Regions from separate parts of the Homo sapiens genome. Here all the other regions are linked to region 1. The links come from fine-mapping of genetic effects on gene expression. A gene starts in region 1. Each other region holds a variant in brackets. All regions are shown on one strand. Distances are from middle to middle. Region 1 holds the start of SLC27A4 (solute carrier family 27 member 4). Region 2 has its middle 21 kb from the start of SWI5. Region 3 has its middle 5.7 kb from the start of URM1.

Region 1 (2,500 bases):
AGCCACTCGGATGAATCTTTGGGGTCTAGGGCTTAGGGGAAGGCGAATGACTTGACTGTGCTTCAGGGGCTGGGTTGAGCTAGGACTCTTGGGTTCTATTCCTGGAGCTTTGAGGACTCGATCAAGGGGACATCTGATGGGACTGTTTTTCTCCGAGTTTTCCTGTTCTTGGGAGTAGATGAAGGTCACAAATGTGAAATGGCCTGAGAGCCTCCAAGCCAGGAAAAGGGAATGGTCTGGACCACAAGAAGCCCTGGGAGACCATCTCCCCCTCCCCCTCGCGAAAAGCAAAAGCCGGGGGCGGGGGAACTGAACCAGAGTCCTCAACCCCAACGCCAGGGTCCAGGGTCCTCAGATCTCTGGCCTCCCATAGCCCGCCATAGCAGAGGGGCAGGAACCTGTCCTGGAAGGCTGGGGCAAGAAGAGGCCAGAAGAGGGTGACTAGTTCCCTCGGGCCCCTGTCCCGGGTCACGCGTGCCGCCCTCGCCCCTAGACAGCAAGGTAACAGTGCGTCTGTCGGGGAAATAGCGCCGCAGGGCGCGCCCCCCACCTGGGGTCCGCACCGCCACCTCGCCCGACTCGGCCTGGCACATGTCCCCACCCGGGAACCCACCAGCCCGGTCTATGCTCACCCGGCGTCGGCTCCGCCGCGCGGCGCCCCGTCCAGATGCGGCCCGGTTGCAGCAGCGTAGACAGCGTGAGGGGCATTAGCCGCCCCTGGACGCACGGAGCCGGGTCTCAGCAGGGTTTAGCCGGCTCTGCGCCCTGCATGGCCCGGCCGCCCCGCCAGCCCCGCCCGCCGCCCGGCCCCGCCCGCCGCGCTCCTACCCCGCCCGCCTCCCGCACCCCAAACCTGCTGTGCCAGGCCGCAGCACCGCCTGCCGCACCTTCCCCGAAGCCGGCAAGCCACAGAGCCGGCGGCGCAGCGCAGCCCCAGCGCGCCTGACGCCGCTCGGCCCCAGCCCGCCCTGCTCGCGCAACGGCTTCGGGCGGCGCCGCCGCGCGGCACGCTGGGAGTTGTAGTCCACGCCGCGCGGCCCCACCCAGCCGAGGAGACCCCCGAGTCCGCGAGGAGACAGGCGGGCTTCACCCCGGCCCTTCCTCCCTGCCGACCCCGGCCCTTGCCCCCTGCTGTCCCCAGCGCCCGGATGTAGGAAGAGCACCCCAGTCCACACCACAGCCGAAAACCCGGAGCACGCTCTCGGGCCCCGGCCGAGTTCAGCAAACACCCAGCACCACACCTAGAAGCTCGCTAAGAGGGCGGTTTCAGGCAGAGGTGAGCGGGGCGGCCGGGTTCCGCAGCCGGCTCTGTGGCGCAATGGATAGCGCATTGGACTTCTAGCTGAGCCTAGTGTGGTCATTCAAAGGTTGTGGGTTCGAGTCCCACCAGAGTCGAATTTTGATGGCTCCTACTCCCTGACTTTCACCTGCGTGTTTTAAGGACTCCAGGACCTATCTAACAAATAAGGTTCAGAACGAAAATCATAAGTCACACCCAACTTTGCTGCGACACAGCCATAAACCTGGTGTCTAGGTGACTACGAGAAATCCTTTCTCGTACCATGGTGTCTTGTGAGCAGCCTGGCACACCTGTTGGCACAAAGGACACGGATTTGGAGGCCCTTAGTTAACTTCACCATCTATGATCTCTGGTCCCTGCAACAAATCAGTTAACCTATATTTGTCATGCCACCCTTATTTGTCATGCCACCTCCAGAGCCATAGGCGAGTGGCCAGATTCTCGGCCCTGTTGGGACTCTTGGCCTCTGAAAAATTGGTTTCTTGTTAAGTAACCATGTTGGGCATCCACAGTTGCCACTTGTCCTTAAACATTAATAGATCCCTGGGAGGCTGAGGCAGGAGAATTGCTTGAACCTGGGAGGCGGAAGTCGCAGTAAGCCGAGGTTGCGCCACTGCACTCCAGCCTGGGCGACAGAGCAAGTCTCCATCTCAAAAAAAAAAAAAAAAAAAAAAAAAAAAAAGATTCTGGGACTGGCGTGGTGGCTCAAGCTTGTAATCCCAGCACTTTTGGAGGCTGAGGCAGGAGGATCACTTCAGCCAGGAGTTCAAGACCAGCCTGGGCAACATAGTGAGACTCTGCCTCTACAGGAAAAAAAAAAAAATTAGCCAGGTAGCTCTTGCTTGTACTCCCAGCTACTCAGGAAGATGAGGTGGGAGGATTGCTTGAGCTCTGGAACTTGGGGCTGCAGTGAGCTGTGATTGCACCACTAAACTCCACCCTGGGCAACAAAGTAAGACCGTGTCTCAAAAAATAAAAATAAGCTGGGCACAGTGGCTCATGCCTGTAATCCCAGCACTTTGGGAGGTTGAGGTGGGCAGATCACATGACGTCAGGAGTTCGAGACCAGTCTGGCCAACAGGGCGAAACCCTGTCTCTATTAAAAATACAAAACTTAGCCGAGCGTGGTGGTGCACGTCTGTAATCCTAGCTACTCAGGAGCTGAGGCAAGAGAATCACTGAACCCGGGAGGCAAAGGTT
Region 2 (2,780 bases), 43 kb after region 1:
CTGGGTTTGATCTAGCACGGACCACAGCAAACATTTAGGGTCAGGTGGCTGTGTAGATGTGTTTGAAGATGGGCTGGTTTTGAGGCAGGATTTCAGAGGATGTGATTACTGGTAGTCAGAAGAAGCAATTTCATCAACCATCAAGGTACGCGCACAGAGCAATGTAGCAAGAACACCCAAGGGGCCAGGCGCGGTGGCTTATGCTTATAATCCCAGCACTTTGGGAGGCTGAGGCGGGTGGATCGCTTGAGGTCAGGAGTTCGAGAGCAGCCTGACCAACATGGTGAAACCCTGTCTCTACTAAAAATACAAAATTAGCTGGGCATGGGGGCACATGCCTGTAATCCCAGCTACTTGGGAGGCTGAGACAGGAGAATCGCTTGAACCCGGGAGGCGGAGGTTGCAGTGAGCTGAGATTGTGCCATTGCACTCCAGCCTGGGCAACAAGAGTGAAACTCTGTCTCAAACACAAAACAAAACAAAACAAAACAAAACAATACCCAAGGAGTTTATTAAAATATATTTTTGGGCCTGCAAAGTCAGGATTCCTAGAGGTTGGACACCCACATCTTTATTTATTTATAAGAGACAGCGTCTCTTTCTGTCACCCAGGCTGGAGTGCAGTGGCATGATCTCGGCTCACTGCAGCCTCGACCTGGATCCTCCTGCCTCAGTCTTCTAAGTAGCTGGAACCACAGGGATATGGCACCACACCTGGCTAATTTTTGTATTTTTTGTAGAGATGGGGTTTTGCTATGTTGCCCAAGCTGGTGTCAAACTTCTGGCTTCCAGTGATCCTCCCACCTCAGCCTCCCAAAATGCTGGGATTATAGGCACCCAGCCCCAAATCTTTATTTAAAAAATCCCTCTCAATCCCAGCAGTTTGAGAAGCTGAGGTGGGTGGATTGGTTGAACCCAGGAGTTCAAGACCAGCTTGGGCAACATAGGGTGACACAATCTCTACAAAAAATACAAAAATGAGTTGGACATGGTGGCATGTGCCTGTAGCCCCAGCTACTCAGGAGGCTGGGCTGGCAAGATGGCTTGAGTCTGAGAGGTTGAGGCTGTAGTAAGCCCTGATCACACCACTGCACTCCAGCTGGGTAACAGAGACAAGACAAGACCTTGTCTCCAAAACAAAACAAAACAAAACATCCCCCTCAGATAATTGTGATACTCAGAAGTTTGGGAATTAGTACCTGGCCTTTAAAGAGCAAGTGTTTGAAACCCCTTCAAACTCTGAGTCTGCTCCTTCTCTGTGCTTCCTTGGGAAAGTGACTTAACCTCTCTGAGCCTCATTTACCTCATTTGGA[T/G]AATGGGGACAACTCTACCTACCTCTCAGGGTGGCCATGAGGAACACATGTGATAGGCAGAGCATTAGGCTCAGGGTCTGGCACAGAGAATGTTCTCCAAGTTAGAATGTGCTCATTAGCTGCTATAATGATTATTCCGCCAAGAACTTTTGGGATTGTGGGATGAACATGAGAAGCTGAAGGAGTCAAAGGTCAAGAGGGACTTTACTCCTGTCCAGAATTGCTGATGTTAGGAATGGGAGGCTCACTGGGAAGGAAGCCGAGCAGGCTACCTACAGGAACCAGGAAGGAGGGGCCCAGGCCAAGTCCAAGGCAGAGGCTGATCATTTCTGGCCACTGACCTGGCCGCTAGGTCAGGGCCCTGGGCAGATACAACATACAACAAACATAGCAGGGCTCTGTGGTTAAGACCTGAGGCTTAAGGGCTTGGAGAGTGCTGGGTTCAAGTTCCGATTCCTGTTTTAGTAATGCCCGACCTCAGATAAGAGACTCAAGAGGCTCCACTGGGGAGGCAGGCAGCACACTGTGGCTACTCAGCCAGGTTCTGGAATCAGATAGCTTCGCTACTTATCTGCATCCCCCTGAGCCTCAGTTTGCTCCATTTGGAAATGGGGACTCTCAACCACTCTCTGTTGTTGGGGGCAGTCAATGAGATACTGCGGGGCATGGTGACTCAGCTCCCTGTCTGACCCACAGAATTGCATATGTGCTGGTGATTGTGGCCATCAATCCCTTATCTGGTGAAACCTTTGGCTCATAACTGGTTTGGGTGTGTGATTGTTACCTTTCACCTCATTCTCAGGCCCATCCACATGACGTGGAACCTGGAGCTTTCCTCCCAATTCCTCCGAAGAATCAGGGTTGGGGGCCCCAACATCCCTTAGCCCCAACCACAGAGGCACTGGGCCCTTGGCCTGGGCTTCCTCCCTTCCCTCTCTCCCCAAGCGGCCCCTCCTTTTTTTCAAGACAGGGCCTCACTCTATCACCCATGCTAGAGTGCAATGTGTGATCATGGTTCATGGTAGCCTTGACCTCCTGAGCTGGATCGATCCTCCCACTTCAACCTCCTGAGTAGCTGGGTACCACCATGCTTGGCTTTGTTTTTTTTTTTCTTTTTTTTGAGACGGAGTCTTGCACTGTCGCACAGGCTGGAGTGCAGTGGCGCAATTCGGCTCACTGCAAGCCCCGCCTCCCGGGTTCACGCCATTCTCCTGCCTCAGCCTGCCGAGTAGCTGGGACTACAGGCGCCCGCCACCACGCCCGGCTAATTTTTTGTACTTTTAATAGAGACGGGGTTTCACCGTGTTAGCCAGGATGGTGTCGATCTCCTGACCTCATGATCCGCCCACCTCGGCCTCCCAAAGTGCTGGGATTACAGGCGTGAGCCACCGTGCCCGGCCCATGTTTGGCTGTTTTTAAAATTTTTTGTGGAGGATAGGTCTCACTATGTTGCCAAGGTGGTCTCAA
Region 3 (2,842 bases), 25 kb before region 1:
TTTGGGACCAAATGATCTTCTAAGGTCTTCTATGCAAACATATTCTAAGATTCTTCTACTGTACTCTAAGCTCCTTCTGGGCAGAAACTTTTCCTGATTCATCTTTGATTATAGCAGGTAGTGCGGAACTTTGTACTCTATAGGGGTTTGCCAAGAGCTTGCTGAATGAGTAAATGAATGAATGATATCAGTCCCCTGCTCAAAGTCACTTAATGGCTTCCCTTTGCCAACAAGCTAAGGGCCTACCTAGAAGGCATACAGAGCCCTTTACAGCCTCTGATTCCAACCCACCTCAGTGTCCCCTGACCTGGAAACTGCCTCCCAGAGCTGGAATGGAGCACTTGGGAGCATTTGAAGAGCTTCATCCACCTGACAAACATTCACTGAGAACCTATTACACACCAGGGCCAGTGTTGCTGCTGGGAACACAATGATGAACAAAACCTGTCAGTTGGCCGGGTGCGGTGGCACACGCCTGTAATCCCAGCACTTTGGGAGGCTGAGGCGGGCGGATCACGAGGTCAGGAGATCGAGACCATCCTGGCTAACACGGTGAAACCCCGTCTCTACTAAAAATACAAAAAAAAATTAGCCGGGTGTGATGGCGGGCACCTGTAGTCCCAGCTACTCGGGAGGCTGAGGCAGGAGAATGGCGTGAATCCAGGAGGCGGAGCTTGCAGTGAGCCGAGATCGCGTCACTGCACTCCAGCCTGGGTGACAGAGCGAGACTCCGTCTCAAAAACAAAACAAAACAAAAAAACAACAACAAAACAAACCACCACCACGAAAAAAAAAAAAAAACCTGTCGGTAGGCCAGGTATGGTGGCTCACGCTGTAATCCCAGCACTTTGGGAGGCAGAGGTGGGTGGATTACTTGAGGTCAGGAGTTTGAGACCAGCCTGGACATGGCGAAACCCCATCTCTACTAAAAACACAAAATTAGCCAGGTGTGGTGGAGCACACCTGTAATCCCAGCTACTTGGGAGGCTGGGGCAGGAGAATCGCTTGAACCCAGGAAGGGGAGGTTGCAGTGAGCCGAGATTTCGCCACTGCACTCCAGCCTGGGCGACAGAGCCAGGCTCCAACTCAAAACAAAACAAACCCCAAAACCTGTGGGTCTCCTTGCCCTCCTGGGGCTGATGTTCAAGGAGA[C/T]CACATAGAGGGAACCACAGAAGACAGAGCAATCCATGGTATGGAGGGAGAACACGGGGCCTGTGGGAACCAGAGGAGGTCCCCAACTTAGTCCTGGGGTCCGGGAAGGCTTCCCACAGGAAGTCACATGGAAGCCCAAGTCTAAAGGAGGTGTTGGGAGTCTATGCACGGGGCCAGAGACACTCCCTCCCTACTGGAATCTCCCAGGCAGGTGGTCCTCCAGCTTCTCCTGGCACAGCCCAGAGATTGGTGAGCTCTTTGGGTAAACCAGCCCACTCTGTGGATGCCCAGCTATCACTGATAAAGTCCTTCCTTCTAACCCAAGCCTACCCCACTCCATCCTTTAGTTAGTAACAATATTAGCTTAACACCCATAATCTTTCAAATAGTATTTATTGCACGCCCACTTTGCACCTGCCAGGTGCATTACATGCACCCCCTAATTTACTCCTCACAGGGACTCTTTGTGATCCCTTTTTCAGATGAGAGCACCGAGACTCCGAATGGGTGGCTTGCCTGAGCCCCCGTAAGGCCTCAGCCCCAGGCTTTTGTGTCCTCGGGATCCCTGCCCCTTATGCACTGACCTCACTGCCTCCCCTTGGACTAGCCTCACCCAAATGCTTTCCCTTTGGGTCCACACAGAACAGGGGCTTGGGCCCCATTCCCTGTTCCCTCCAGCAGGCCGGCCAGCCCGGGCGTAGGCCTCCGTCCTCTCTGAAGCTCGCAGGGAGACAATGGCAGGGTCGGCTGGGGAGGCGAGGGCGCGGGTGCCCCCCTGCCTGCTGTCCTTTGTCTTCCCGCCTGCTCCCCTCGCGCGCCCCGGGAGGCTGGGAGGCGCCTCTCGCAGGCTTCCTCCTCCCATTCTTGTGCTAATTGGGTGTCAAGCTGAGATCAGTGAGAAAGAAATCCGCCCCGGCTCGGGTTAAACTGCCGCCAAAGACGAGGGCTGAGCCCAGAATATCATTAGGCCGGGAGGAAGCAGGGCCCCCTCCTCGGGGGGAGGGGCCGGCTACGCATTTCAAGCCCCTTTGAAAGTCACTCGGTCACCCCCTCCTTTGCTGCCGCAGCCTCAATGGGCCCCTCGGAGGTATTTAACCTTCTTCCCAGGAACTGAAAGTGATACACCATGCAGTGGCCTGGACAGCCACTTGCCTGTCCCGAGGGCAGCTGGACCTCCGGGAGCGCACGAGGCTGGCCCCTTCCAGCCTCTCCTGGAGGAACAGTTTGCAGATGGGAACACTGAGGTTCAGGGAAGGGGACTTTCCTCCCAGTTCTGCCATTCACAAGCTCTGTGGTATTTGGGAGAGACTTTGCCTCTCTGAGCCTCAGATTCCTCATCTGTGAAATGGGGATAAAAATGTACCTGCTTTGGGCTGGGCGCGGTGGCTCACGCCTGTAATCCCAGCACTTTGGGAGGCCGAGGCGGGTGGATCACTTGAGGTCAGGAGTTCGAGGCCAGACTGACCAGCATGGTGAAACCCCATCTCTACTAAAAATACAAAATTAGCCTGGCGTGGTGGCAGGTGCCTGTAATCCCAGCTACTTGGGAGTCTGAGGCAGGAGAATGGTTTGAACCCGGGAGGTGCAGATTGCAGTGAGCCGAGATTGGGCTACTGCACTCCAGCCTGGGCAACAAGAGCAAAACTCCATCTCAAAAAAAAAAAAAAAAAAATAGTACCTGCTTTGAATA

What was found. PIP is the estimated chance that this variant, and not a neighbour inherited with it, causes the effect. A credible set is the group of variants that fine-mapping cannot tell apart.
Region 2: its variant is the best candidate, but not a certain one, in a credible set for the expression of SLC27A4 in tibial artery (GTEx, PIP 0.65).
Region 3: its variant is the best candidate, but not a certain one, in a credible set for the expression of SLC27A4 in whole blood (TOPMed, PIP 0.73).

The regions. Positions count from the first base shown.
Region 1 is chr9:128,338,971-128,341,470 of GRCh38, reverse strand. SLC27A4 (solute carrier family 27 member 4) reads right to left here and starts at 944. Exons shown (of 13, transcript NM_005094.4): 1 at 633-944. It overlaps TRR-TCT3-1 (tRNA-Arg (anticodon TCT) 3-1), which reads left to right and starts at 1,305; the gene lies at 1,305-1,395. RefSeq lists silencers at 418-817, 888-1,297, 926-1,567.
Region 2 is chr9:128,296,085-128,298,864 of GRCh38, reverse strand. No RefSeq gene overlaps it. Among named protein-coding and RNA genes, the nearest start is that of SWI5, 21 kb to the right of the region's middle. The variant T/G (reference allele first, on the strand shown) is at 1,314.
Region 3 is chr9:128,364,268-128,367,109 of GRCh38, reverse strand. No RefSeq gene overlaps it. Among named protein-coding and RNA genes, the nearest start is that of URM1, 5.7 kb to the left of the region's middle. RefSeq lists a silencer at 1,878-1,947 and enhancers at 1,289-2,180, 2,181-2,842. The variant C/T (reference allele first, on the strand shown) is at 1,153.